Linked DNA regions of Homo sapiens. The protein of the gene in region 1 interacts with the protein of each later gene in a pairwise test. Each region holds a gene or a part of one and is shown in the gene's direction. Other genes may lie near its edges. The genes, in order: SERPINA5, PIAS4 and RIDA.

What was found.
Region 2: the proteins of SERPINA5 (region 1) and PIAS4 interact in a two-hybrid assay, tested with the Homo sapiens proteins (one large-scale study listed by BioGRID and IntAct).
Region 3: the proteins of SERPINA5 (region 1) and RIDA interact in a two-hybrid assay, tested with the Homo sapiens proteins (one large-scale study listed by BioGRID and IntAct).

What each region holds. Positions count from the first base shown.
Region 1 is NC_000014.9:94,584,426-94,587,925, forward strand, and holds part of SERPINA5 (plasma serine protease inhibitor preproprotein), read left to right. Parts: intron 1-2,920; 5' UTR 2,921-2,937; coding exon 2,938-3,500. UniProt on the Homo sapiens protein: Heparin-dependent serine protease inhibitor acting in body fluids and secretions. Inactivates serine proteases by binding irreversibly to their serine activation site. Involved in the regulation of intravascular and extravascular proteolytic activities.
Region 2 is NC_000019.10:4,021,040-4,024,763, forward strand, and holds part of PIAS4 (E3 SUMO-protein ligase PIAS4), read left to right. Parts: intron 1-2,996; coding exon 2,997-3,081; intron 3,082-3,724.
Region 3 is NC_000008.11:98,107,132-98,110,855, reverse strand, and holds part of RIDA (2-iminobutanoate/2-iminopropanoate deaminase), read left to right. Parts: intron 1-2,104; coding exon 2,105-2,210; intron 2,211-3,724. UniProt on the Homo sapiens protein: Catalyzes the hydrolytic deamination of enamine/imine intermediates that form during the course of normal metabolism. May facilitate the release of ammonia from these potentially toxic reactive metabolites, reducing their impact on cellular components.

The sequences.
Region 1 (3,500 bases):
GGGTCTCAAACATGTAGCCCAGGAGAGCCTAAGTGAACCTGGGGCCCTCTCCAAACAGATCCTGGGGGAGACTCAGTGCACACCCGGAGAAGCAGCTCCTCCCCATCGGATCTCTAGTGCTTGGCAGGGGGCGGGGTCTTGAGGGGGTGTCCACAACACATGGCAGACTGCAGATGAAGAAACTGAGGCCCAGAGGGGGTGAGGCTTGCCCAGGGTGACCTAGTAGCTGAATAGATGGGAGAATGGAGGCCAGGGCCTCACTGAGACTCTCTGGTCAGCTGCCCCTGGGCTGTATCCAATAAGGAAACTCCCCTGCTTCTGAAGCTGTTCTCGAAATTATCAGCTCAGTGTGACCCTGTGGGGGGTTGAGCCACATTGTTTCTTTAGAAGCATCTCCATACATGGCTGGTTCCAACCCTTGGCAGGAGGGACCATATTGTGCTGTAAAATAGACTCATTTAGAGAAGCCGGAGATTAAAGCACCCACCTATGTCCTTCAAAGCTCTCCAGGCAAGTGCCATGGTGGGAACAGGTAGGGAGTGTCAGTGGGGGGAAGCCCAGACTCTGCTCACTCATTATCTGCAGATTAGGGCTATTGTTGGTGGCTACTAAGTCAGGGATTTCAAAATCAGGAAGATGCAGCCAGGAAAAGAGGAGGCAGGACTCTGCAGAGGAGGCAGGACTCTGCAGAGTCAGAGTGATAACCGAGTCTGAGTCCAAGCTTTGCCAGTGTTAGCAAGCGACTCCATCTCTCTGAACCTCGGATTACCCATCTGTAAAATAGAGCTAGCAGCAAGATGTACCTTTTTGGGTGGTGCAGGGCTGAAGGAGTTGGCACAGTGCCTGAAAGAGGGTGCGGGCAATGCGCCCAACTGCTGTGGCTGCTGGGTTTGGTGCCAGGTTCGATTCTGCAGGCAGAAACTTCTACATGAGGCTCCTTCTCGGAAGGAGCTCAGGACACAATTTGGAGGCTGGGCTGGCAAGGGTGACCTGCTGGAGCTATTCAACTTCACTTAAAGACAGGCCTGCAGTCCAAGCCTGCCCAATTCCTGAGACCATTCTCTCTCCACTGCTGAGCCCCACGGCCACTCTGCAAGGGATTTCCCACCCACCTGTTTGGGGCCCTTTGGAGTTTGGTTTTAATTGGGTCACGGGATGCTGTGACAGGCTGCCCCTGCCTGGTGGGGATCTGGGGTCACTGATGACATTGTGCCCATGGAGAGAGCCCAGCAGAAAGGGATTCCCTCCAAGGCGACACACAGGGCAAAGCTCACATCAGAAGCCAGGCAGGCCCTCTGCACCTGGTAATTAGCCAGCCTGGGTGCTGTCAGGCTCACACGTGTGTGTGTGTGTGTGTGTGTGTGTGTGTGTGTGTGTGTAAAGCATGTACCCTATGGTACAGTTGAGAATATGGAGGCCTCAGATGGGGCTTTTGCCAGAAACTGCCATGCCTACTGCTCACACTTCCATAGCACGTGCCCCCAAGCACCCCATGGTGTAGGTGCTGTTATTATCACTATCTTACAGTTATGGAGCAGTGGCTCAAGGTGTAACTGACTTGCCCAAAATCACACTACAAGGACACAGCAGGGCTGAGATTTGAACCCAGGCAGTGGCTTCAGAGCCTGAGCTGTTTCCTACTGCAGAGGGAGGAGGCAAGACTTCTACCCGTAGCCAGATGGGGAGGCATGGGCACAGGAACGGCTCTTGGGTGAAGTGGAGGGAGGAAGAGGAGGACTGAAGGCCAAGGCCACGTCAGGAGTGATGGGAGACCCCACAAAGGCCTCCCTGAGAAGAGCTAGAGACAAAGATGAGTGCCTCCTCATCTGGAAGATGAAAAGATGTCTTTGCCTGCATGGGCTGCTGTCACAAAGTCCCAGGGGCTAGGGGGCTTCAACAACAGAAATTTCTTTCTTTACAACTCTGGAAGCTGGAAGTCTGAGATTAAGGCACCAGCAGGATTTGTTCCTTCCAAGGCCCCTCTCCTTGGCTCACAGGTGGCTGCCTTCTCCCTGTCTTCACCTGGTCTTCCCTCTGTGCATGTCTCTATCCTGATCTCCTCTTTTTAATTTTTGTGTAAGGACGTAGTCATATTGGGTTGGGGCCCACTCTAGTGACCTCATTCTAACTCAGTCCCCTCTTTAAAAGCCCTATCTCCAGATATAGTCACATTCTGGGGTATTGAAGGTAAGGACTTCAGCATATGCATTTTGGGGGCACAATTCAGCCAGAACAGGAGGACGGTGGGGATGTCCACATGAAGAGGTTCAGGCAGAATTCCTTTAGGAGGGGAAGATGTCTCTCTGTGGGACAAGGGTGGCATGGAGCAGCCCCTGGGGGAAGGAGAAGGGGACAGTTTGCATACTGGTATTCTGCCTACCCCAGGGTGGACACTCACTCAGCGTTTGCTGAATGAACAGGGCAAGGCCAGCAGTGCTGATGGTCCCAGGCATGTAGCTGGTCTGAGTTCATAGAAGGACCACAGCGCCCTGCCATGTGCCAAACCAGGACACCAGAGTGAAGGCCAGAAGCTCACATGGAAGCAGCTTAGTTCCCTGGTAACCTCGAGATGCTGATGAGACAGAGCAGAGCAGAGGGAACCCTCTCCCTCCATATCCCATCCTCCAAAATGTGTCCCTTGATGTGGATGGGTAGACAGGATTCCTGCCCTGGCAGCCAGACCCCTGCCTTGGGTCTGCACCTCCTCTCCCTCCTTCCTCTCCCCGTCATCCCTAAATCTTGTCCTCGAGCCACTGCCACCCTGTGTAAACCCTCATGCCCAGTCTTGCGGGTGCCATCCCTTCTCTTTGAAGCTGAATGGACCAAACATACCCATTGAGTGTTGGGTGGGGACATCTCTGGAAAGTCAGCACCTGGACCAGCTCCACCCCTCTCTGAGGACACCTTCTTTCCCTTTCAGAACAAAGAACAGCCACCATGCAGCTCTTCCTCCTCTTGTGCCTGGTGCTTCTCAGCCCTCAGGGGGCCTCCCTTCACCGCCACCACCCCCGGGAGATGAAGAAGAGAGTCGAGGACCTCCATGTAGGTGCCACGGTGGCCCCCAGCAGCAGAAGGGACTTTACCTTTGACCTCTACAGGGCCTTGGCTTCCGCTGCCCCCAGCCAGAGCATCTTCTTCTCCCCTGTGAGCATCTCCATGAGCCTGGCCATGCTCTCCCTGGGGGCTGGGTCCAGCACAAAGATGCAGATCCTGGAGGGCCTGGGCCTCAACCTCCAGAAAAGCTCAGAGAAGGAGCTGCACAGAGGCTTTCAGCAGCTCCTTCAGGAACTCAACCAGCCCAGAGATGGCTTCCAGCTGAGCCTCGGCAATGCCCTTTTCACCGACCTGGTGGTAGACCTGCAGGACACCTTCGTAAGTGCCATGAAGACGCTGTACCTGGCAGACACTTTCCCTACCAACTTTAGGGACTCTGCAGGGGCCATGAAGCAGATCAATGATTATGTGGCAAAGCAAACGAAGGGCAAGATTGTGGACTTGCT
Region 2 (3,724 bases), on another chromosome or scaffold:
CCCCACCAGCAGAGAGTTCTGATTGCTCTACACCTTTGCCATCTCTTAGAGTTGCCAGTCCTTTCATTTTAGCCATGCTAGTGGGTGTGTAGAGAGGTATTTTATTTTATTTTACCTCATTTTATATTATTGATACAGAGCCTCACTCTGTCACCCAGGCTGGAGTGCAGTTACACAATCTCGGCTCACTGCAACCTCCGCCTTCTGGGTTTAAGCGATTCTCCTCAGCCTCCCGAGTAGCTGGGATTAGAGGCGTGTGTCACCATGCCTGGCTAATTTTTGTATTTTTAGTAGAGATGGGGTTACCATATTGTCCAGGCTGGTCTTGAACTCCTGACCTCAAGTGATCCACCTGCCTCGCCTCCACAGTGCTGGGATTCCAGGCATGAGCCACCGCACCTGGCCTGGGTGTGTAGAGAGGATTTAAACCGGTCTTGGATTTCTACACAAATCGCAGGGGCCTGAAATACTGGCTGATATTTTGTGGAGGATTTTACATCTGTGTTCATGAGGGGTATTCATCGGGAATTTTCCTTCCTTGATGCTGAGTTGTGAGGTTTTGGTATCAGAGTTATGCTGGCCTTGTAAAATAAGAAGTATGCTTTCCTTCTCTGTTTTTTGAAAGAGTTTATGTACGGTTTATGTGGTTTCTTTCCAAAATGTTTTATAGAATTCACCGATATGGACCTGCATTTTCTTTTTCTTTTTTTTTTTTTTTTTTTTTGAGATGGGGTCTGATTCTGTTGCCCAGGCTGGAGTGCAGTGGTACGATCATGGCTCACTGCAGCCTCCACTTCCTGGGTTCAAGCAATCCTCCTGCCTCAGCCTCCAAAGTAGCTGGGACTACAGGTGGTGTGCACCTCCACACCTGGCTAATTTAAAAATTTTTTGTAGAGACAAGGTCTCACTTTGTTGCCCAGGCTGGCCTCAAACTCCTGGGCTCAAGCAATCCACCCACCTCAGCCCCCAAAGTGCTGGGATTACAGGCATGAGCCACCATGCCCAATCTGGACCTGCAGTTTTCAGAAAAGGTTTTAATTATGGATCCAACTTCCTTAACAGGTAAAGAGCTTTTCAAACTTCCTGTATCTTTTGGTACCCGTTTTGGTAATTTGCATCTTTGGGAGGATTTGTCCATGTCACTAAGTTGTCAGATTCATTGGCATAAAGTTTCACCTTTTATTCCCCTATTGAACCGAAAAGCTGTAGGGTCTGTACTATTGTTCTTTCATTTCTGATATTGGTAGTTTGTGTTCTCACTGTCTTTTTGTTGTTCAGCTAGAGTTTTGTTTTTTTTGTTGTTGTTGTTGTTTTTGGTGGTTTTTTTTGAGACAGAGTCTCGCTCTGTAGCCCAGGCTGGAGTGCAGTGGCACGATCTTGGCTCACTGCAAGCTTCGCCTCCCTGCAAGCTCCGCCTCCCAGGTTCGCGCCATTCTCCTGCCTCAGCCTCCCTAGTAGCTGGGACTGCAGGCGCCTGCCACTACACCCAGCTAATTTTTTGTATTTTTAGTAGAGATGGGGTTTCACCGTGTTAGCCAGGATGGTCTCGATCTCCTGACCTCGTGATCCACCCCCCTCGGCCTCCCAAAATGCTGGGATTACAGGCGTGAGCCACCGCGCCTGGCCGTTTGTTTTTGTTTTTGTTTTTTTGGGTTTTTTTGGAAACAGTCTCACTCTGTCGCCCAGGCAGTGGTGTGATCTCCACTCACTGCAACCTTTGCCTCTCAGCTTCAGACAATTCTCCTGCCTCAGCCTCCCAAGTAGCTGGGATTACAGGCGCCCGAACCAGGCCTGGCTATTTTTTTTTTTTTTGAGACACCACACCCTGCTGTTTTTTTAAGAGATGCGGCAGCCAGGCGCCGTAGCTCATGCCTGTAATTCCAGCACATTGGGAGGCCGAGGTGGGCAGATCACCTGAGGTCGGGAGTTCGAGAGCAGCCTGGCCAACATGGAGAAACCCTACCTCTACTAAAAATAGAAAATTAGCCGGGCGTGGTGGCTCATGCCTGTAATCCCAGCTGTTTTGGGAGGCTGAGGCAGGAGGATCACTTGAACCCAGGAGGTGGAGGTTGCAGTGAGCTGAGATTGTGCTATTGCAGTCCAGCCTGGGCAACAAGAGTGAAACAAAGTCTCAAAAAAAAAAAAAAAAATGGGGCTGGCTGGGCACAGTGGCTCACGCCTGTAATCCCAGCATTTTGAGAGTTTGAGATGGGCGGATCACCTGAGGTCACGAGTTCGAAACCAGCCTGGCCAACATGGCGAAATCCCATCTCTACTAAAAATACAAAAATTAGCCAGGCTTGGTGGCTATTCGGGAGGTTGAGGCAGGAGAATCGCTTAAACCCGGGAGACGGAGGTTGCAGTCAGCCGAGATCGTGCCATTGCACTCCAGCCTGGGCGACAGGGTAAAACTCCATCTCCAAAACAAAACAAAACAAAACAAAACAAACAAAAACCAATGTTTTCTGACTGCGCCTCTGCCTGTCAGTCCAGTTGTAAGTAAGAGGGTAGGGCCCAGGCTTGTGAGCACCATGGCCTTCATCCCGTCAGTACCCCCCGCACCACCTCTGTCCGGGTGACGTGGCCACCCTGCAGGCAGGAGGAGAGCAAGGGCCGGGTCCGGTTTGTGCTCAGGAGAGAGGAGGTATGGCAGTGTCCTGCTGGCCTGGCTGGGTCCAGCTCTCCCCGCCAGGCAGCTCGGCACTTTTCGGTTTCCTAAGTAGACGCCTGCATCCCACAGGCTGCGAAGGTCACCCAGCAATCTGAGTGGCCGTCAACAGGACACAGGCCATGGTGAGCGGCCCCGAGAAGGGGATGGGCGGGAGTCCTCCCTCATCCTCCTTCCTGGGCGGCCCCCACCTCTGCCCCACATATCTGTCCAGCCAACTTCCCATTTCCTGTTTCCTGGTCTGAAGAGGCGCAGGCTGGGAAAAGCGACTGGGCTCGGGGGACCTGCCAGGGACCAGACATGCCCCTGACCCCGTGTTTGTCTTCAGTCCCACAGAACAACGAGAAGCTTCAGGAGAGCCCGTGCATCTTCGCATTGACGCCAAGACAGGTGGAGTTGATCCGGAACTCCAGGTGTGCGGCACCTCCCCCAGCCCAGCACCCCACCGCCCGCCCACCCACTTTCTCCTGGGCTCACTGGGGAGAGCCGGCAGCCACGTCCACTGCAGGCCTCGCTCGGGCTCAGTCCAGAACCGTGCTGCAAGGCAGTGGCCGGGTTTGCTTCCTTCCAGAAAACCCCATCCTGGGTCTCAGGTGCTGGCCTGTGTGCCCACTGCCTGTGCCCTGCAGCCTGCTAGAGAGAGGCGGACTGACTGTGCCCTTTTAACACGGTCTTGCCCTCCTGGGCCCATCCTGGGCATTGCAGGGAGCGGAGGAGCATTCCTCGCCTCCACCCACGCCATGACAAGAACACACCCCTGTTGTGACAACCACAGATGTCCCCAGACATTGTCCAGTGTCCCCTAGGGCAGGATAACCCGGGCGAGACCTCCCTGGGTTAGGGGATTCCACGTATCCCCAAGAGACTCTGTGTCCCATGATCCTCTGCCCTGCTGAGGTCCCAGAAGGCTGCATACATTGAAATCCACACCCTGAATTGGAGGGGGAGAAAGTAGGTGAATCCCAGGAGCTGGGGGTCCCCGGTTTACACCGCCCGCCTTAGGAATTTATTCTGGTGTCCAGCATGAGCAGGAAGTTAAGTCAGGTGTTTTTTTGT
Region 3 (3,724 bases), on another chromosome or scaffold:
GAGAACAGCATGGGGGAAACTGCCCCCATGGTCCAGTCACCTCCCACCAGGTCCTACTCTCAACATGTGGGGATTATGGGCATTACAATTCCAGATGAGGTTTGGGCAAGGACACAGCCAAGCCATATCAGAAGTGGACCCTCAAAAGTATATCCTTAATTGATCCTCCAATAAGCAGTGACTAATCTTGTCTGAAGATGACTACTTATGTTTTTAAAAGTGCTCTTGAAATTGCATTTTTTTGCTTTACAGCTATATTGAGGTATAAGTTACTTATAAAAGTTACCCATTTTAATGGCTGGGTGTGGTGGCCCACGACTGTAATCCCAGCACTTTGGGAAGCGGAGGCAGGCGGATCACCTGAGGTCAGGAGTTCAAGACCAGCCTGGCCAACATGGCAAAACCCCATCTCTACTAAAAATGCAAAAATTAGCTGGGCGTGGTGGCTCACACCTGTAATCCCAGCTACTTGGGAGGCTGAGGCAGAATTGTTTGAACCCGGGAGGCGGAGGTTGCAGTGAGCCAAGATTGTGCCACTGCACTCCAGCCTGGGTGACAGAGTGAGACTCCATCTCAAAAAAACAAGTCACCCATTTTAATTAAGTGTAGTGTTCCATGAGTTTTAGTAAATGTATAGAATCATGCATCCACTATAATAGTCAAATTTTAGAATATTTCTATCACTCCCAAAAAATTCCCTTGTACCCATTTATGATCACCCCTGGCCCTAGACAACAATTAATAATCTGCTGCTGCTATTTTCTTTTCTAAGGTTTCATTTAAGTGAAATAAGACAATATATAGTCCTTTGTTGGATCTATCAGTGGGTGCATGTGTGTGTGTCTTGCTTTTTTGCTATAAATAATGCTATTCTGAACATTCACGTAAACTCTTTGGACATATGTTTTCATTTCTCTTGGATAGTTGCCTAGGAAAGAAATTGCTGAGTTGAGGCTCAAGCCTGTAATCCCAGCACTTTGGGAGGCCAAGGCAGGAGGATCACTTGAGTCCAGGAGTTTGAGACCAGCCTAGGCAACATAGCAAGACCTCATCTCTACAAAAAATAAAAATAAGTAAATAATAAAATAAAAAATTAGCCAGGCATGGTGGTGCACACCTTTAGTCTCAGCTACTTAGGAGGCTGAGATGGGAGGATCACTTGGGCCTGGGAGGTCAAGGCTTCAGTGAGCCAACATCCTACCACTGCACTTCAGCCTGGGTGACAGAGCAAGATCCTGTCTCTAAAAGAAGAGTTTGCTGGGTTGTATGTTAAATATATGTTTAAATTTTTAAAGAAACTGCCAAACTATTTTCTAAAGTGGCTGTACCATTTTGCATTACTACCGACAATGTATGAGGGTTGCTCCCCATCATTGCCAATGCTTACTTTATCAGTGATGTCTTAGTGTGTGGTTTTGCTTTGCATTTCTCTAATGACTACTAATGTTGAGCAAATTTCATGTACTCTAACTCTTTGTATATTTTCTTTTGTGAAGTATCATTTGCTCATATTTTATTGGGTTTGTCTTCACATTATTGACTTTTAAGAGTTCTTCTTATATTCTGGATATAGGTACTTTATTAGGTATATGTTTTGCAAATATTTTTCTCCCAATCTATGACTTGCCTTTTCTTCCCCCGACCCCTTTTTTTATTTTGGGTCTTTCTCTGTTACTCAGTGCCACTGAGGCTGGAGCGCAGTGGTATACTCATGGCTCACTTCAGCCTTCAACTCCTGGGCTCAAGCAATTCAATCACCCTAGCCTCCTGAGTAGCTGGGACTACGGGTGTGCGTCACCATACTTGGCTGTTTTTTATTGTTTTTTGTAGAGACTGAGTGGTTGCCCAGGCTGATCTCAAACTCCTGGTCCCAAGCGATCCTCCTGCTTCACCCTCCCAAAGCACTAGGATTACAGCACCCAGCCCCTTTTCATTTTCTTAAAGATATCTTTGATAAACAAAAGTTTTCAATTTTCATGAAGTCCAATGTATCTGTTTTTTTTTTTTTACAATTTATACTTCTCTGTCCTATCAAAAAAGTCTTCTAGCATTGAATTTTATGTTTTATACTTACATAAATACACTAGCTTTCTGTTTATTGCAGTCAAGCTGTATTAGTCGACAGGACCATTTACATTTCAGGACAGATAGGCATGGACCCTTCAAGTGGACAGCTTGTGTCAGGAGGGGTAGCAGAAGAAGCTAAACAAGTAAGTTATTTTCCACATTTAAGGTTCCCTTTTCTACTACCTTTTTAATGTTGAAGAGCATTAAGAATCCACTTGCCTGATTTGTTTTATAGAGATTAACAGATAAATGTTTTTTAAACTACTTACTGCTTGATTTAACATAGTTTTTGATCTAAGAGTTGGAAATTTGATGGATCATGAATCATCTAACAACCAAAAGAGAGATTCCACCTCCTTAACACTAAGGTGACCTTAAACCTGAATTATTGACGTCAGATGACATGTTGCCACTTCCACATGGATTGGGAAATTTTCTTCTCAGGGCCACTGACCTGCCCCTCTTCAAAAAAAAAAAAAAATTACCACCACAGAAGTAAAAAGTCAACATTTTTAAAAATAAGAATGGGGAATATAATTTTAATCCAATAAATATAATTAAACCATAATTTAGGCCAGGCACGATGTGGCTCACACCTGTAATCCTAGCACTTTGGGAGGCCGAGGCTGGCAGATCACTTGAGGTCAGGAGTTCAAGACTAGCCTAGACAACATGGTGAAACCCCATCTCTACTAAAAATACAAAAATTAGTTGGGGGAGGCCAGGCACAATGGCTCACACCTGTAATCCCAGCACTTTGGGAGGCCGAGGCGGGCAGATCACCTGAGGTCAGGAGTTCAAGACCAGCCTGGCCAACATGGTGAAACCCCGTCTCTACTGAAAATACAAAAATTAGCCAGGTGTGGTGGCATGTGCCTGTAGTCCCAGCTACTCGGGAGGCTAAGGCATGAGAATCGTTTGAACCCGGAAGGCGGAGGTTGCAGTGAGCTGAGATTGTGCCACTCCACTCTAGCCTGGGCAACAGAGCAAGAACCCTGTCTCAAAAAAAAAATAGAAAAAAAAAGTAACCCAGTCAGGTGGCACATGCCTGTAGTCCCAGTTACTCAGGAGGCTGATGCAGAAGAATCGCTTAAACCTGGGAGGTGGAAGTTGCAGGAAGCCAAGATCGTGCCACTGCACTCCTGCCTGGGACACAGAGCAAGACACTGTCTCAAAAAATAAAATAAAATAAAACAATAAACTATAATTTACTGCATTTACTGAGTCATATAATGCTGAAAGTTTGTTTTGTTTTGTTTTGTTTCTTGAGACAGCCTTGCTCTGTCGCCCAGGCTGGAGTGCAGTGTCGTGATCTCAGCTCACTGCAACCTCTGTCTTCCAGGTTCAAGCAATTCTCTTGCCTCAGCCTCCCAAGTAACTGGGACTACAGGCACACGCCACCACACCTGGCTTATTTTTTGTATTTTTAGTAGAGACGGGGTTTTACCGTGCTAGCCAGGATGGTCTCGATCTCCTGACCTCATGATCCACCCACCTCAGCCTCCCAAAGTGCTGAGATTACAGGCATGAGCCTCCACACCCGGCCTAGCTGAAAGATTTTTAAAAACCTAAATATCCACTCATAAAGAACTGGTTGAATAAATTATGCTAGATCAATACAACTAAAGTAATGTGGAAAGATCTCCGAGGTAAATTG